Linked DNA regions of Homo sapiens. The main gene of each other region encodes a partner of the protein of the gene in region 3 in a complex. Links are inferred from orthologs where the notes say so. Each region holds a gene or a part of one and is shown on either strand. Other genes may lie near its edges.

Region 1 (3,578 bases), on a different chromosome or scaffold from region 3:
ACCATGATACGGTGCACTGAAAAGAACAATGCCATTTCTGTGGTATCCCCGCCAAAAATGTATAAGCTCAGTCTAATCATCAAGAAATACCAGAAAAACCCAGATTAAGAGTTACTCTATAAAAAGTCTACGGGTTGGGAACAATAGACACTGAGGACTACTAGAGGAGGGAGGGAGGGAAGGTGCAAGGGTTGGAAAACTACCTATTGGGTACTATGCTCACTACCTGGGTGTCGGGATCAATGGTGCCCCAAACCTCAGCATCACGCAATATACCCATGTAACAAACTTGCACATATACTCCCTGAGTCTAAAATAAAAGTTGAAATTAAAAAAAAAAATACAACTGGCCCATAACCTTGGCATTTTGAAAGACTGGCTGAAGAACTGCTCCAGAATAAATGAGACTACAGACATGACAACTAAATGTAATGTTACTCCAGAGTGGATCCAGATCAGACTTTTTTTTTTTTTTGCATATTACTGAAACAATTAGCAAAATATGAAAAAGATTTGATAATAGTAAAGTATTAATGTTAATTTTCTGATTTTGGTAATTGTGCTATGGCTATGCAGGAAAACACCCTTGTTCTTTGGAAATACAAACTTAAGTAATTGGGGTAAAGAGGCACCACATCTAGTAAGGAATATTCAAATGGCTCAGAAAAAAGTACTTACTCGAAGTTGATGATAAAGGGAAACCTCTTCCTTACAGTAGAATGATGACTAATTAATACAGAAATAATAATAGAGTTAGAACAATCACAATTTTGGAAACATCCTAGTAAAAATTTATTCAGACAAGAATCGTCAAAGGATGCTAAACCTAGGAGGGGTAGATTTGATGAGGAACAGAATTGTCAACAAGGTCTCAAAGTTTCTCCTCACAAATTACCCACTAATTGCAAAAGGAAAAACAATAACGATACACTGGAGAAACTGGACATCTTACCCAAGTGATCAAAATTAGCATCACCAATAAGGGACAAATGGACATTCTGTGCATCTGGATGTATACCTGCAATACATATCACTTACAGCATTTCAACCCTCACTGCACTACCCCAATCTAACCATGAGGAAACATCAGAAAAACCCAAATAGAAGGATACTCTATCCTTTAGCTGTCCTGTATTTTTCAAATATATTACTATTATAAAAAACAAAGAAAAGCTGAGGAACTGCTCCAGATTAGAGGGTTATGGCAATACAACATATGATCCTAGGCTGGATCGTGGAGCTGAAAAAAATTACCAATAAAACAGCAAATGAAATTGAAATATGGACTGTAAAGTATTATGGCAATGTTAAATTTCTGAACTTGATAGCTGTACTTGGGTAAGACAGCATGCTTGTTCTTATGAAGTGCATGTGTAGTGTTAAAGGGTAAAGAGTATGATGTCTACAATATACTTTCTAATGGGTCGAGGATTCTAGGATACACACCCCCAGTTAAGGGAACTGGGAGTTAAAAGGTATTCGAAGGCTGCCATAAGGATGTAAAGAGTTAAGTCTCTACCCTTACACCCACTCCAGAGAAAAACAGTACTATTAGCTTCCTGTGTTTTCCACATGGATACAAAAACTTTTGCACACATATGTAATTCTTCTATCATTCTGACAGCTATATATTCTAATGGATGAATATATAAAATGTACTTAAGTGTTCTATTGGCATTTGTTTCTAGTATCTTTTATATTACAATCTGATATCTTAACAGATTCTTTCATCACTTTTACATTTATTTTGATAAAAGTTAGGTTTGGCTTTAATTCCTTGTTTTTAAACTTTTTTTCTGCATTTTTCAACTCTGGCTGTGGCATAAGGCCTTAATTCTGTCATCTTATTTGGTTATAGTGTCTGTTTGTATGTCTTCCTTTTAAAAATATTTTATGTTCATGTTTTGTTTTAGGGTTTTCCTCCTCATCTAGTAAATACTTCTATTCAATTTATGACCATCATTATTATTATTTAGAGAATATGGAGATGGTTCTGAGGTACAATACAACAAAAATCTTCATAGGAGAACCTAAGTGCGGCCACTGGATGATCCATTCATGGAAGGAGGCTACTCAAAGTATGAAGATAAAATGTGAGCTGGACAAGAACTACAAAACACGCTGAAAGAAATCAGAGATGACACAAACAAATGGAAAAACATTCCAAGCTCATGAGCTAGAAGAATCAATATCATTAAAATGGCCATACTGCCCAAAGCAATCCACAGATTCAATGCTATTCCTATCAAACTACAAACATCATTTTTCACAGAATTAGAAAAATCCTGCCGGGTCCAGTGGCTCACGCCTGTAATCCCAGCACTTTGGGAGGCTGAGGCGGGTGGATCACAACGTCAGGAGTTCAAGACCAGCCTGGCTAAGATGATGAAACCCCATCTCTACTAAAATTACATAAATTAGCTGGGCATGGTTGGCGGGCTCCTGTAATCCCAGCTATTTGGGAGGCTGAGGCAGGAGAATTGCTTGAACTCAGGAGGCAGAGGTTGCAGTGAGCTGAGATTGCACAGCTGCACTCAGAGCCTGGGAGACACAGCAAGACTCCGTCTCAAAAAAAAAAAAAAAGAAAAAATCCATTCTAAAATTCATATGGAACCAAAAAATCAATCCTAAGCAAATAAAACAAAGCTGAGGTATCACATTACCTGAGTTAAACTATACTATAAGGAAGCTACAGTAACCAAAACAGCATGGTACAGATATAAAAACAGACCCATAGACCAATGGAATGGAACAGACAGAAATAAAGCTACACACCTACAGCCATCTGACCTTTGACAAAGTTAACAAAAATAAGCAACAGAGAAAGGATTCCCTAATTCAATAAATGGTGCTGGAACAGCTGTCTAGCCATATGCAGAAGACTCAAACTGGACCCCTTTCACCATATATATAAAATTACCTCAAGATAGATTAAAGATTTAAATATAAGGGGCCGGGTGCAGTGGCTCATGCCTGTAATCCCAGCACTTTGGGAGACTGAGGTGGGTGGATCACTTGAGGCTCGGAATTCAAGACCAGCCTGGCCAACATGGTAAAACCCCATTCCTACTAAAAATAGAAAAATTAGCCAGGCGTGGTGGCATGTGCCTGTAATCCCAGTTAGGTTGGGAGGCTGAGGCATGAGAATCGCTTGAGCCTGGGAGGTGGAGGTTGTGGTGAGCCAAGATTGTACCACTGTACTCCAGCCTGGGCAACAGAAGGAGACTCTGTCTTTGGGGAAAAAAAAAAAAAAAGATTTAAATGTAAGACTTCAAGCTATAAGAGTCCTAGAAGAAAACCTACGAAATAACATCTGGACATCAGCTATGGGAAAGAACTTACGGCTAAGTCCTCAAAAGCAATTGCAACAAAAACAAAAATTGACAAGTGGAACCTAATCAAACTAAAGAGCTTCTGCACCGCAAAAGGAACTATCAATACAGTAAACAGACAACCTACAGAATGGGAGAGAATATTCACAAACTGTGCATCTGAAAAAGGTCTAATGTCCAAAATCTATAAGGAACTAAAACAATTCAGAAAACGAAAACCAAGTAACTCGTGGCCAGGTGTGGTGG
Region 2 (7,850 bases), 4.0 Mb from region 3:
AAGCACTGATCAGGCAAGACTGCAGCTGCTGGAAGAGAGGCTGTGAACTGAATAAAATCAGGTGGTGAACTTGAGGGGGAAACATCCCATATTTGCATAAAGCTCTGAGGCCTGAAATTCATCTCCCTTCCCGTGGTTACTCTGCTTCCCCAACCCCAGAGAGAAGCTGCCCCAATGCCGTAATCACCTTCACCCTAGTTTGGCGTAAGGGGCATCAGGGTGGTGGGAAGGGGAGAAAACACCAAGAGGGACAGTGACCTCTCCAGGGTCACGTGCCAATGCCAGCATCCAAAGATGCCTGCTGCCAGCATTTGAGGACACCGCCCTCTGTATCATCCCAGGCGATGACGAATAAACTGTGTGAGGTGGAAGGGTCAGGGCAGCAGGCAGTTTTCCCTGAGTACAGAGAACAATGGCTCAGAAAGAAAGTAACTTAAAGAAAGATGTGTAGGAATCAACGAGCAAGCGGCTGTGGTCAGAGCAGAAGGTTTAATGAGAGGCCAAGGCCACAGGGGAAGGGGAAGAGGAGACAAGCCTCCAAGTCTTGAGGCAGAGGTGTAAGGATGATAAGGACCAGCACATCTGCTTCAGGACAGCACCTGCCCACGGGCAATTCCTTCTTTTCTTTCCACACTGAGCCGAGACAGAAAATTCTTTGCCAGACAAGATGCAAAAGAAACTGTCTCTTGCCTTTATTTTGCTCACCGTCCCACTTGTCTTCTGCATTTGAGAGCCAAGACTGACCACAGGCTGTTTCTCACACAAGAGGATACTTACTGCACTATCTGAGACATGAGGTGCAAGTGGAAGACAGGGTGGAGGCACCTCAGGGTGACAGAGCCTTATAAAAGGGTCTCCTTTTGGAATCACTCCAATTCCAGCACGCGAGTTTGAGGTACCCACCCTTTGTGGATTTGACTCAATAAAACCTTCCAGGGAGTATCATTTCTCTCAACACCCACAGTATCAAGCAGAAAAAAAAAATCAGCTCTTTTAACATGCCTAGAAATTTCTATCTGCCTTTCTCTCTCTTCAGCAAGGCAGGGGTGATTAATGTGCACAGCAGCGAGGAAGGCGGTTTTCAGGTGGTAAGAATAACAAGCAGGACGCAGAGAAGAGCTCAAGGTGAATGGGTCAGTGTGGGGGCCTGCAGGACTGACTGACAAGCAGTGGTCTGGGGGGTGCTCATGGTGACTAGGGCAGTGCCCACACCATGCAACAGAAATGGAGGCATCTCCCGGGGCAGGGTTTGTTCCCTGAGAGGACTCTTGCACCATGTCCAGCCATCCATCAACATGAGGGGACAGGAAGCCGAGCTAACTCTGCATCCTCTGGGTGTGTCATTCCTAGAGTTCTAAGGGGAGGCTGGGTTTCTGTCATCCCCTTGGCTTTGACTTCCCCAAGGGCTCACTGGGGGGCAAGATGGTGCGTCGGGGCAGCATTCAGCGTGCAACCAGGGACTGCCATAGTTTGAGCTCTTGGCGTAAGTTTTGGTAGGAGGCAGCTCCCACTGTCTTTCGAACGTAAGCAGTGAAAGATGCCCCACCAGGTTTAACACAGGCGAGTACTGTTAACTCAGAGTTCTGCCTACAGGGTTTCAAAGAACGAGTCCTCTAGTCTCAGCAGGAAAGATAAACATCCCACTCCGCAGGATGCAATGAGGAGACACCATCTGTGCTTGGTCAACATGGAATGGAGAAATCTTTATCCCTACTTCCGGCAGGAGGCATCCTTTCTATAAAACCCCAATTCCTAATGTACGAGAACATCTCAGTTGACCCTAAGCCACTTGGTACCGCTTTCAGTAAGGTTCCAACATTGGTCAGTTTCCTATATTGAAGATGACACTCTGATTTGACTCAAAAAACTAAATGCCATTAAGAACCTACACCAAAGTGCCCTCATGCCAGGAAAGCAGAACCCTGGATCCTCATCCACGATTACAGAATTTGTAACATTCTTACACTTGGAACTTCATGCACTCAACCAATTCTTACTCTGCCTTGTAAATCCCCCTACCACCAAAGCATGCATTCCCGGTTCTGAAGAAATGGAGGAGGGGGCACAAGAAGACCCTGATTTATTGCATGCAAAAGGAGCGATGGTGGAAATGACTAGAGGGCCTGGGGAGGTGTGATGATGCCGAGAGTGAAGAGGACAGGGGAAGCAAGCTGAGAGGGTGAGGCCGCGGGGAGACCGGGGCGCGCGGCACGCGGCGCTCTCACCTGTGGATGTTCATCTCCCGTGGAGGGCGGTGGGCCTTGTCGTAGGAGACCTTGGCGAAGACGCCGGCCACGATGACGAAGGCGATCACCCCGCAGGTGATGTAGACGGTGAAGTTGGTCTTGTCCTTCTCCGGGTCGTACTTGTTCTCGGGCCCCGGCGACACCACCTTGGTGCTGGGCGTCTGTACCCACACCGGGCTCTGGTAGTTGGTGCACTGGCGCTGGTCCAGCTTCTCGTGGCGCTTCTTGCAGCAGAAGCGGTAGTAGCAGGTACCGCAGCAGTACAGGTAGCCGCTCTCGCTGTTGTTACACTCGAACTCCTTGTCGTACTGGCCGCTCACGTCGTAGTAGCCCCAGCACGTCTCGTAGGTGACGGCCGCGCTGGCCGCCGCCGCCACAGCCGCCGCGGGCTGCCCCCGCCGGCTTCCCGCCTCCGGGATTCCGGGCGCCCGGGCGGTGCCGTTCAGCTCGCGGCCGCCCCGTGCCAGGGCGCCCCCGGCCCTCCGGCCCCCGACGGCAGCGCCGCCTGCACTCAGGGTCCGGTTGGCGGCGCGGCCGCGGGCTCCGTGGACGCTGGGCAGCAGGTCCAGGGACTCCAGCGAGAGCAGCAGCAGCAGCAGGAGGCGCCGCAGCGCCATGGCGGGGCCGGGCGGGAGGGCGCGGGGAGGCTTCCGCGGCAGGCCGCTCCCCCGGCGGGCCGGGCTCGGAGGACCCGCCGCGCGGGCCGGGCTGGAGGCGCTGAGCGGTCAGCGGCTCCGGGGCGATGGCGCCATCGAGGCGCGGGCGGCAGTGGCGGCGGCGGCGCGCGGTGCGCACGGACCGGCCCGGCGCGGGCTGCTCGGGCTCTCAGGCTGCGCGCCGGCTCCGCGCTCCCCCTGCGGGCTCGGCGCGCCTCCTGGGCAGCCCCATCCCCCGCCGGCGGTGACTGCGGCCCCGCGCGCGGCTCGGCTCAGGCAGGACCCGAAGCGCGGCTCCGGGCGGCGGCGGCGGCGGCGGCGGCGTGGTCCCGTCCGGGCGGGTCCTGCGGGACAAGACGGGGAGCCGGTCACGGGGTGGGGCGACTGGCGCTCCGGGAGCAGGAGGAGAACCGCGGGCAGGCGGGCGGGGAGGGTGCGCGCAGCCCTCGAGGAGAGAGACTCGGAGCCGGGAGGGGCGTAGAGCCCGCTCCCAAGACGGGGTCCCGCGGCCCTGCGCGCCTGGAACCGAGAGCGCACGGGCCGCCCCTCCAGGCGCAGCTCGGCCGCCCGGGTCCCCCAGCCGCCCGGCCCCGCAGCGCGCTCCCGCCGCAGGCTGGCTCCCTGGGACGGAGCCGGTTGAGGCTGGGGTCCGGCGGCGAGCCGGGAGAGCGCGCGGCGGCTGGACCTCACTCACTCACCATGCCCGGCTGCGACTGCAGAGGCGGCGGCGGCGGCGGCGGCGGCGGCGGCGGGGCGAGGCGGGAACGCAGCTGCCGGAGCGAGCGAGCGGAGAGCCGCCGGCTCGCCGCCTGCACTAGTGCCGGAACGTGTGCGAGAGTGAGCGAGGGAGACACACGCACTCACACACCCGCACACACGGGAGCGCCGCGAGGGGAGGGGGGACAGGGGAGGGGAGGGCAGCCGCTCTCCGCCACCCACGTTTGCACGCCCGGGCGCTCAGGGTGCGGGGCGGGGGGGACTCCTTTTCGCTTCTTCCGGATCGCAGCAGTTGAAGCTCCGCGTCACGAAAGCTCCGGACAGCAGTTATTCGACACGGCGAACCCGGCGGGCGAAGAGGGGGCCGGGAGCAGGGCGGAACGTCCGCTCTGCAGCCGGCCCGCGGCAGGGACTGACCTCCCCTGCCATTGCCTTCTCTAGCCTTCGCGACCAGTCCCCACCCTACCGGAGCCCGGGGCAGCGCGCTGCCTGAGCGGGAGTTGGGGTTTCTGCAAGCCTTTGCCTCTCCCTAGTGGTGATACTCGCAGCCAGGAGAAGAGGTCAAACCCATTGCTACAGGTTCCCAAACTGAGTCCAGGGGTCAAGTGGCTTGTCTGAGGCTGTTGGGCGACCCGTGAGCTGAGCCTACACTCTCTTCCCCTTGGTCACTCTTTCCCCAACCCCGTACCCACTACGCATAAAGGCGCTAGACAGCCCCAGGACTGGATGGCAACTCTTTGCTATACTTTTTTTTTTCCCCGCGGAGCCTCGAGGCCATTAGAAAGCTATCTGAACCTCTGAGACTCAGCTTTGTAACCCCTGTGTTGAAATCTCTGTGCTGCAGCTCCTATGGGAGGTGAGGAGGATGGGGGTGCAGGGCGGGGGTGCTTTCCGGGGTAGTTGCGTGTCTGGGTCTGTGGAAAGGAGGCCTGAGTCTAACTTTCACAGCTACGAGGCCATCCCAAAAGAGAATCATAGTACCATCCTTGGCGTGTGTCCTTGGAGGAGGTAGGGGGAACTGAGAACAAAAAGCGATGGCCAAGGCCAAGATTCTGCCTGCGTGACCAGCGTGCTTTGGTTGAAGGCAGGGAACTGAAGGCAGGGAACAGGCTGTCAGAGCGAGGGCGGTAGAGAATTTTCCCTGAGACTTTCTGTTCAGTCCCACTCATGTGTGACCTAAACAAGGGATCCCTATCCAGGAACAGAAGAGTTCCTCTTTTGGGAACCGTGGAATGGATATATTAGAGCTCGAACTCAGACTCCAAGACACAAGAGGGAGATCCTGATATTGACTAGGGGGTGGGGTGGGGGGCGGTGCACAGACTATCCCCGCAGCTCCCCACTTGCTACTGTCTCCATTCCCTCCCTCTTCCTCTGCACTTCCTCCCGTTCCCTTAACTTCTCAGTTGCCACCTTCTTCTTAAAGATTCTGTCCAACAAACATTTGTTTAGTGCCTACTCCCTGCCAGCAGAATGAATAAGAGAGTCCCTTTCCTCAAGGAGGGGGACCTTGTAGACCATTAGGGAGACAGATAAACAAATGATTTCCACATGGCAAGGTTACGTCTCATGATAAAGGCGGGCAGGGTGCTCTGAGAGCAGAAGACAGGCACCCAGCCTAGGCCTGCAAGGGGACAGATGGGGGTCAAATGTAGCTTTCTCAATGAGGTAGAGCAGAATCTTGAAGAATGGATTACGAGTTAATACAGCAAGCAAGAGGGGAAGGAGGCTCCCAGCAGAGGGAACATCCTTAGCAGAACCAGAAAGACAGGAAGTGGTTAAGGTGTGTGAGCAGGGATGCAAGCAGTTTAGCGTGAACCCTGAGGGAGTCTTCCAAATAAGGCTAGCAGGAGGGTATTGAATCCTCCCTTGCAAAGAACTTGAATTTATTCTACAATTGCTGGGGAACTGTTGGTGGGTTTTAATCAGGAGAAGACACTGTCAGTTTTACATGTTTGCTGGATCTCTGAGTCAAATGGAGTAGGGAACACTGGACTGGACGCAGGAAAAGCAATTTGGAAGCTGTCCTGATAATACAGGTAAAAAATGATGAAGGGATGCAGTAGATTACTGGGAGTTGATGCCCACAGTGGAAATAAGCATGGCTGAAAAAGCAGGTTCAGGACAGAGTTAGCAATAGTCGTGTTGTGGTTCCTTTGAGAGAACTAAGTGGAGCTGTCCTGCACAAGAATTGCAAGCTCAGAAGAGAAGATAAGACAGGCATATACATTTGGGAATCATAAGAACATATTTGAAGACAACAGCCTTATATATTTACCTTTACACTCTGTGCAATTTCTAAGCTATTCCCTTCTTTGTCTCTTCCATGAGCCTTCACCATCCCTTCATTATTCCAGAATTTGCTTTTCCATGTCTGAGAGCCCCTTAATGATGGATAGGAGAAATGTGTCCTCCTCACATCAGACTCTAATGATTTGTTCAGCGGCATTAAGTAGGGGAAACTGATTTGGTTTCTCAGACCACCACCACCTATAAATGTATCCTGAACCCCTGTGCTCATAAGTGGTGGCATCAACACTCATGGAAATAATAGCATCTCAGGGTTGTGTAAGATCTTAGGGGTTATATATCCCAACTCTTGCTGCAGTACACTGTATTTCTTATTGACATTTCCAGCCCTCCTGGTTTGCCCTTTGTAGTAGAAAAGGTTGCTTGGTTACCACCATACATTTCTCTTTTCTCCTTCTAGTTTGAGCGCCTGAATTGTTGACAGTATTAAAGTGCTCTTTCTTTGTGGATTTGACTCAATAAAAAGTACCAGAGAAGAATCATCTCTTCCAACACCTCCACCAACTTCAGACAGTCCTGAGGTTCAGGGGAGAGTGACCCAGTCCCTGGTTGTAGAAGGCAAATGAAGGCAAATGCTGATTGGGTTGAGCTAGACATAATAAATCTTTTTCCCCTTCACAGGGATTAAGAAGGGACATATGATCCAGTTCTAGCCAATACTAAGTGAGAGAAGTTTGCAGGGGGTTTCTGGGGAAATTTTCTTGCTCTTAAAAATAGTGATAATTCCTTCTTCTTCTTCTTCTTCTTCTTCTTCTTCTTCTTCTTCTTCTTCTTCTTCTTCCTCTTCTTCTTCTTTTCTCTTCTTCTTTTCTTCTTCTTTCTTCTTCTTTCTTCTTCTTTCTTCTCCTCCTTCTCCTTCTCCTCCTTCTCCTTCTCTTCTTCTCCTTCTTCTCCTTCTCCTTCTCCTTCCTTCTTTCTTCTTTCTTCTTCTTTTTTTGGTGTTATTTCTCTGGATGTTGTTACCTTGGGGTTGGGGCACCAGCTAAGAGTTGAAGTTGATCTTCTTTTCTTTTTTTTCTTGAGACAAGGTCTTACTCTGTTGCTCAGGCTGGAATGCAGTGGCGTGATCTCAGCTCACTGCAACCTCCGTCTCCCAGGTTCAGGCGATTCTCTTGCCTCAGCCTCCCTAGTAGCTGGGATTACAGACACCAGCCACCGAGCCTGGCTAAGTTTTGCATTTTTAGTAGAGACTGGGTTTCACCATATTGGCTAGGCTGGTCTTGAACTCCTGATCTCAGGTGATCCACCCGCCTTGGCCTCCCAAAGTGTTGGGATTACAGGCTTGAGCCACCGCATCCGGCCTCAATTTTATAGTTGTTAGCACTGCTTACCAAATATCTCTGCCTCCCAGGCATGTAGTAGAATTGCAATTCCTAGCCCACTTGTGAGTAGGAGGGGAAAGTGACTAGTATCAGTCAATGAGTTGTGAGCAGAAATGATGTGTGTTATTTTTGAAACAGAGCATCTAATTGCTGCTGCAAGACACTCTAGAATTTTCATTTTCTTCTGGCATGGTGATCAGCGATGTTCTATATGGGAGTGGTTTTTGTCAGTGTGAGTACTTAGGTGACTATAGTGAGGAATGCCTGATAGCTAATAAAAATAGTGTCCCACGATGGGCATGTAGCATGAGTAAATATAGATCAATAGATAGATAGATAGTACATAGAGATATAAATATAAAAAAAATAAATATTTCTATCTATAAATATCTATCTATATCTCTATCTATTAATATCTATCCATCTCTCTATGTATCTGCTTTTTAAAGCCACTGGAATTGAGGCCTATTATTGCAGCGTATCCTAGCCCACCCTGACTGATACACTGAGGGTGCCAGCTGAAAAGATGGACAGAACATCATTGGGCCACTCAAAGAGGTATGCTCAGGGCCTTCCCATCTCTGGTCTTCCAGTAACGT
Region 3 (7,116 bases):
GTGGGGGAAAGACTGAGGCTATTTGCCAGAGCCCCAGGAGCGAAGCGGTTAAACCCTCCGGGTGGTCCTTATTGGGCAAAGCCGAGATGCCGGGGGCGGGGCAGTGTGGCCGACGGCCTCATTCATTGGCCGTCAGGGGCGTGGCGGAGGGACAGTGTGGGCGAGGCAGGGGGAGCGAACGGGCGGGAAGTGGACGGAGGCGTGGCCTCCCGGGCAGGTGGGTGGGGTCTGGCTTACTCTATCGAGGGAGGCAGCAACCTTCGGAAAGGGGAGGAACCTTGGGGCTGGGTTACCTGACCGAAATGAGGGCGGGGCTGACCTGGGATGGGCGTGGCGTGGCCCCCCGTGCGTAAAGGAGACAGGGTTTGAGGAGCTATTGTCCAAGTAACTTCAGGGCGCGGGGGTCTTTGGAAAGGAGAATCCGGGGGTTGGGAAGTCTGACGTCTCAATTTTCCTAAGATGGAGGTCTGTTCAGATTTCATCAGAGCACCCCTCCTACCTCAGCTCTGTGTTCCCAGGAGACGGTTGCTAGGCGACGGCAAAGTCCTTGATTGCTGCGTTGCCAGGCAACAGAGAAACGGAAAATGGAGGGAAAAGGGAAATGGGGGATGGGGAAGGGTCTTTATGGGCCATGGCGCCCACTGGTGGATAAGCAGGGCCTGCAGGTTTTCTATTCTAGAAGGAAATTTGAGTCCAGCCCCTTCCGCACTGACTCCTTGGATCCTCTGGTGATCCAAGCCTTCCTACCAGATATGAAACTAGGACATTGGGGGTCATCTTGGGGGCGCATGTAACAGATGCCGATCAACGGGGTCAATCTCGCTTGGGTGAGATTCTAGGGAAGTCGTCATTTCTACCATGTATGGGCATTTTATAGAAGTCAGCCGATTTGAGGAGACCCCTCACTGGGTTTTAAGAGCTGGAAGGGTGGGCGTTCAATGGGAGAATATTTGGAAGAGAGGCTTTCAGGTTAAGTTGTTTGGGAGAAAATGGAAATCTCTGAAGAGACCTGAAGGAGGCGGTTGGGAGTGTTCTGGACGATTTGTGGGTCATTGCAGATTGCCGGCCGTATCTTTGGTGTGTATTTTTTGAGGCCTGAGTGTGGAGAAGATATATTTGGGAGCAATCTTCCGACAAAGTTGGAATTCAGAATCGTGGAGGGGATGTTCTGGGCAGACAGAAAAGGGTGTAATCTATGAACCTCAGGGGTAAAGAAAAGGAGAGGAGGTGCCGGGTGCGGTGGCTCACACCTGTAATCCCAGCACTTTGGGAGCCCGAGGCGCGCGGATCATGTGAGGTCACGAGTTCGAGACCAGCCTGGCCAACATGGCGATACCCCGTCTCTACTAAAAATACAAAAAAATTAGCCGGGCGTAGTGGCGGGCGCCTGTAATGCCAGATATCCGGGAGGTTGAGGTAGGAGAATCACTCGAACCCGGGAGCCGGATGTTGCAGTAAGCCGAGATCGCGCCATTGCACTCCAGCATGAGCAACAGAGCGAGAATCTGTCTCAAAAAAAAAAAAAAAAAAAAGAAAGAAAGAAAGAAAAGAAAAGGAAAAGGAAAATACTTTTAATTAATTAATTATTAATTTTTGAGACCGAGTCTCACTCTGTCGCCTAGGCTAGAGTGCAGTGGCACGATCTCGGCTCACTGCAATCTCTGCTGCCCAGATTCAAGCCATCCTCCTGCCTCAGCCTCCCTAGTAGCTAGGATTACAGGCGCCTGCCACCGCGCCCGGCTAATTTTTGTAGTTTTAGTAGAGATGGGGTTTCACCATCTTGGCCAGGCTGGTCTGGAACGCCTGACCTCATGATCCAACCGCCTCGGCCTCCCAAAGTGCTGGGATTACAGGTGTGAGCCACCGTGCCAGGCCAAAATTTTTTTTTTTAGAGATGGGATCTCACTATGTTGCCCAAGCTGGTGTTGGGCACCTGGCCTCCAGCGATCTTCCCGTCTACATTTCTTTTTATAAGAGTTTTGGAAAAAATTGACGAGATTGCTATTTAATTTGGAGGGTCTGCTTTAAAGTAGATTAAATATTTCCTGAAATTGGGTTCTGGTGTGGATTTGGAGACTGGCATATTAGGAAGTCATGAGTATCTTATTAGATTCGGGGGTTTGGACAGGGGATCCCCAACAAATTAGAGGACTTGTTATTTGGATGTTTATATTAGAGCAAGAGTAATATTTGCACTAATTGCAACATCCCTGTTAGTGGATTGGGAGATAGATGTGATATAGAAAGGGATGATTTAGCATATATTAATTTGGGGGGCCAACAAGGCTCTGTGGTTCCTTAAACTCTTGAAGAAACATGGGCTGCCTATCAGGTGGGGCTGGACTGCAGGGGAGAACTATGCTGGTTAGAGTAGGAGATGCCTTGGAATCTGAGGAGATGCTATCCACAGCACCAATCTTGCGGGGGTTTGGTGGGAGAGGCAGTGTAGATCCCTTGGGGGTTCTTGTGAGAGAAGTGCTGTTTGTTTCCCTGGACTCTGGGAGGCCAGTAGTGACGAGATGTCCAGTGAGGTTTTGGAATGGTTTGGGGTCTCGCGATGTTGGGGTTGGGGGATTAGATGGGATGGAATAAGGGGTCCCTGAGAACTAGAGAGATAAACTGGTAAATTTAAGTCTGTCTTTAATTGTAGAGGGGTCGGAATAGAAGTATACTGTGGAAAGTGAAGTTCACAGAGAAACAGCGTGAACCAGGGAAGTTGGTGGCTAAGAGGGTCTCCCCTCACCCCTCTCTCCCAACGTGACGCTCTTCCTTACTGCGCAGGCGCCGTCACCCCCCCCCCCCCCCCGCCGCAGCCTCCAGTTGCCGCGGCCGCCGCAGCCCCCGCCCCTCTGCCCCTCCCCCTCCCCCAACCCCCGGGACCCTTGATATCCCACCTACCCCCTTCCCTCAGTCCCCCTCCCCTTCTCCATGTCGGCTCGGAACAGATTCGCCTCCATGTGTCTCTGCGTGGTACGTGCCGCGGTATGGGCTCCGGCCCGCTCCCCCTTCCCGGACCCCCGCAAATATCAGGGTGCAAGCTTCAAGCGCTGTCGCTCTTCCTTCTGCTTGGTGCGGGGTCTCTGGGTTGCAACTTCTCGTGGACAGGCGCCGTGGGTCGCCCCTCTTATCATTCACTTTGACTCACACCCCTATGTTTTGGGGGTGCAAGCCTCAGTTCCAGGTCATTCTGTGCAACTGGGGCTCTGGTGAGGAGGGGGCCAAAGGGGAAGGAACAACAGCGACTCCGTCCGTGTCCCCCATTCCCCAGGCCTTTTACTTGTTTTAAGCCCTAATATATTGGGGGTGCAGATATGTCCCAGTAGCATCTGAGTTGTCTGGGTTAGGGCCCTGAGTCCCAGTAGGATAAAGGATGGGGGGGGTCCTCCTTTCCCGTCCTGCTTTAGTTGCCCTGTAATCCAAGACTGAGAGGTGCTGATCCCCCACCGCCCCAGCCCCCCAGTCTGCAGTTTCAGAATTACTCTCCCCCGCCCCCACCCCCACCCCTCCCGACGTTTCTCCCCGCCCCCCTACATGTACGTCGAAAATTTCCAGAGACTGAACCTAGTCCCTAACCTCTTCCAGCCACATTCTGGAAACCCTGGCACCCATTTCTTGTTCCCCATTTTCTCCATGTTGCCTCCCAATCCTGAGGAGCCTTTTCTTCAGTGCCAGACACCACCCTCCCTCCATGGGGGTGGGGCAGGGAGAGGTATTGGGGGCTCGCTGAGATAAAAGTTTACCTTCATTTCCTCCCTAGAATAAATGATGAAATGGCCCTCCTCATGTTTCCATTTTCTTTGGGTGCACGCTGACATTTCCTCCTCAGATTCAGGAATTTTCTCTCTGAGGTGGAGTGAAGATGGAGAGGCACTGGACTCAAACCCTCCCCCAGACTCCAAAACTTGGAGCTTTGGTCCTAATTTACCTTGCAGGGAATTGGAGGCCTTGTGAAGGAAGAGTGGATAGCGGAGAGCGGCTTCCACCCCTTCCCCCAGGTCTCAATTCTGGGGCTTGCCCCTCAGCTTGTGCACTGCCCAGGTAGAAGACCACCTTCTCAGGATGTGGAATGAACAGTCTCTGTTGGTTCATAGAACTCCTTTATTCAAGACAGCTCAGCCTTGGAGGAGGGCTATTTTGTGTGTTCTCCTATTTTCCTTCTCTACTTTTTGTGCCCATCGGATTGAAATCTGGAGTTCAGGATTCTCTCCAAGTCTGTGGCCCAGAGAATAGACTCAATCTTGCTGAGCCCGTTTTCCTTCTTTAAGACTCTTTAAATGTATCAGGGTGCTTCTTGATTTGAGTTGTCTCTGTGTTCTGGGTTTGAGAGTTTTCGTGCTGACAGGACCACTTCCCTTCTCCCATTCTCTTACTGTACCCTTACTCTACAGCCAAAGTTGTGTTATATTCTCAGCCTTGATTCATCATCTTTAACATTTTCAGAATCCTACTCAAGGATTGGCCATTGACCTTGATAAGCTTCCTCCCATTTGATCTCGCAGCTGCTGCCCTCTAAGTATTAGGGCACTCTCAGCCTCTCAGAAACTTTTGGGAGGGAAATTCTGCTCGCCCTCTCTCTTTTTTGTTTTGGAGATGGAGTCTCACTCTGTCGCCAGGCTAGAGTGCAGTGGCATGATCTCGGCTCACTGCAACCTCCGCTTCCCAGGTTCAAGCAATTCTCCTGCCTCAGCCTCCCATGTAGCTAGGATTACAGCCATGTGCCACCACGCCCAGCTAATTTTTGTATTTTTAGTAGAGATGGGATTTCACCATGTTGGCCAGGCTGGTCTCTGACCTCAGGTGATGTACCCACCTCGGCATTATAAGCATCAGCCACTGCTCCTGGCCTCTCTCTCTTTTTGAGACAGGGTCTTACTCTGTTGCCCAGGCTGGAGTGCGGTGGCGTGATCATGGCTCACTGCAGCCTCCACCTCTTGGGCTCAAGCAATCCTCCCACCTCAGCCTCCTTAGCAGTTGGGACTACAGGTGTGCACCACCATGCCTGGCTAATTTTTGTATTTTTTGTAGACAGGGTTTCACTGTGTTGCCCAGGCTGGTCTCCAACTCCAGCTCCTGGGCTCAAGCTGTCTGCCTGCCTCAGCCTCCCAAAGTGCTGGGATTGCCGTGCCTTCTCTTTTTACCCATGTGTACTGGGCGGTGCATTCTGTCTTCTTCAGTTCCTGAGGGATCCCTGCGTATGATACCTTCCCCTTCCTGAACCTGGAGCTTGGAGGGTCAGTCTCTGTGGAGGCCCGTTCCAGAGGAGAGGAGCAGGCGAGGGCAGAGGCGGACACGGAAGGACCCAGGCAGAAACGCTGTCTTCTTCTGCTGTCTCCATCTGCCCTTTTCCTCCTTCTCTGGCCCCCAGTTAATCTCATTTTACTGTTGTCCCTATTAAGCTAGCACAGGAGGCCCTTGGGATGGCAGCTGATTAACTGGGCAGGGAGTCAGGGGTCATGTTGGGCCTTTCACCCCAAAAGAGCAGAGGGAGACCAGAAATTCACTCTGAGGCTCAGCATGCTACCCTCCTCCCCAACCAGGGAGGCTGGCACCCATTCTTGCCCCTGTCCTGAGCCCTGCTGTCTCTGTTCTTCCCCTTCCTCCCCCAGCCCATGCCCTTATAGCATAACCGGATTAGCTGGCTGGGCTGTGGGCTGTTGCAGGGGTAGGGCCAGACTCCCGGGGCCCCTCTGTTGACTGCTTGGAAACCAGCAAGGGCAGTGAACTGGACAGGCTTAGCCTTGTCCTGTCTCGGGGGCTGATACCAAGTACCTTCTGGTGGAAGGGGTGACTTCAGTCCTTGCCTAAGGAGTGCAAGGTAAAGGAGAGCCAATCACCTGTGGGGTAGAGGCTGCAATGGGGAGACTGAGGCCATGGAGGTGGGGCGCGGGGAGGATGCCATGCAGAGTAGGAGCAGCCAGAGGGGTAGGGGAGGGGAGGCTAGAACAAGAGTGAGTCTGAGATGGTGAGAGAAGCAAGGAAGTTGGGGACTGGAGGCAGAGAATGGAGATGTGAGTGTCGGGGCTAGAGCTCTGAGAAGCTGGAGGGACTCGAAGATGAAGGTGGTGGGGAAAGGGGTGAAGACACAGATGCCAGAGGGGCTATGCCCACCAGAAGGCCAGTGTCCCAGGATGTGAGGAGTAGGAGTTGGGGGATGGGATTGGGACCTGGGGATTGATGAGAGGTGCTGAGGCCCTGGCGGGAGAGGGGGCTGTTGGGAGAGTGGAGAGAGGGGAGCCAATGGGCTAGAGGAGAGGGAGGGGGAGGAGCTGGTCAGGCCCCAGGGCCTTCCGCACTGCACTGGCTGGGGGAAGAGGCGGCGGCCAGGGCGGCCAGCCTGGAGCCTGAGGCACCGGGCTGGCCCCAGTGACACCTCCGTCCCCATCCCCAGAAATACCGCTACCAAGATGAAGACACGCCCCCTCTGGAGCACAGCCCGGCCCACCTCCCCAACCAGGTAAACGCCCCCGAGCTGGTGCACGTGGCGGAGAGGAACTTGTCCCACCTCGAGGCTGGCCACGGGGTCGTGGGCCACGCCCACCTCTCCCCCTTCAAGGTAGGAGACCCTGGTGGCCCCCTCCCCAGTGCGGCCCTCGGAGCCTCGGAGCTGCAGCAATCCCTAAGGGCCGGTAGGGTGAGAGAGAGCCGTGGGGAGGGGGATGCTGGGACTGGGGGCGGGGGTTTGGGGCTTGGGCTCCTGGGGTCTGGGGGAGGGGGCGTTTGTGGGGCTGGAAACACCTTGGTCCCACAGAGGAGAAACAGGCCAGGCCAATGGGAGTGGATGTAAAGCCTAAAGCAAGAATGTGTGTGTGCGCGCGTGCCTGTGCGCGTGTGCTGTGTGTGTGCCTGTGCGTGTGTGCATGCATGCGTGCCTGTGTGTGTGCTGTGTGTGTGTGTGCGTGCGTGCGCCGTTTGTGTGCCTGTGCGTGTGCTGTATGCGTGTGTGTTGAGGTGTGTGCATCCCCCAAGAGGCCCCCACGCCTGGGACCTCTTCATTCCTTCACACCCCCAACCTCCATTTCCATTTTCTGTGTCCAGAGCTCTGTTCCAAGCGCCTGCTGCCCTCATTTGCTCTTGTCCCTTCCCCGCCTCCTCCCCCTACCTCCGCCTCTGGGCCTG

Evidence for each region.
Region 1: the proteins of DLG4 (region 3) and CRIPT are in contact, whole or in part, in a crystal structure (PDB 5HED), measured with the Rattus norvegicus proteins. The link is inferred for Homo sapiens from one-to-one orthologs. Residues at the interface, in NP_062567.1 of Rattus norvegicus: Gly322, Leu323, Gly324, Phe325, Asn326, Ile327, Val328, Gly329, Gly330, Glu331, Asp332, Glu334, Ser339, His372, Glu373, Ala376, Leu379, Lys380, Arg399, Phe400; in NP_063972.1 of Rattus norvegicus: Lys94, Asn95, Tyr96, Lys97, Gln98, Ser100, Val101.
Region 2: DLG4 (region 3) and SHISA6 share a complex: the UniProt entries of both Homo sapiens proteins name them as parts of the postsynaptic hippocampal AMPA-type glutamate receptor (AMPAR) complex.

What each region holds. Positions count from the first base shown.
Region 1 is NC_000002.12:46,627,118-46,630,695, reverse strand, and holds the end of CRIPT (cysteine-rich PDZ-binding protein), read right to left. Parts: 3' UTR 520-3,578; downstream 1-519. UniProt on the Homo sapiens protein: As a component of the minor spliceosome, involved in the splicing of U12-type introns in pre-mRNAs. Involved in the cytoskeletal anchoring of DLG4 in excitatory synapses.
Region 2 is NC_000017.11:11,236,436-11,244,285, reverse strand, and holds the start of SHISA6 (protein shisa-6 isoform 1 precursor), read right to left. Parts: upstream 3,074-7,850; 5' UTR 2,864-3,073; coding exon 2,226-2,863; intron 1-2,225. UniProt on the Homo sapiens protein: Involved in maintenance of high-frequency synaptic transmission at hippocampal CA3-CA1 synapses.
Region 3 is NC_000017.11:7,207,512-7,214,627, reverse strand, and holds part of DLG4 (disks large homolog 4), read left to right. Parts: intron 1-6,388; coding exon 6,389-6,454; intron 6,455-7,116. UniProt on the Homo sapiens protein: Postsynaptic scaffolding protein that plays a critical role in synaptogenesis and synaptic plasticity by providing a platform for the postsynaptic clustering of crucial synaptic proteins.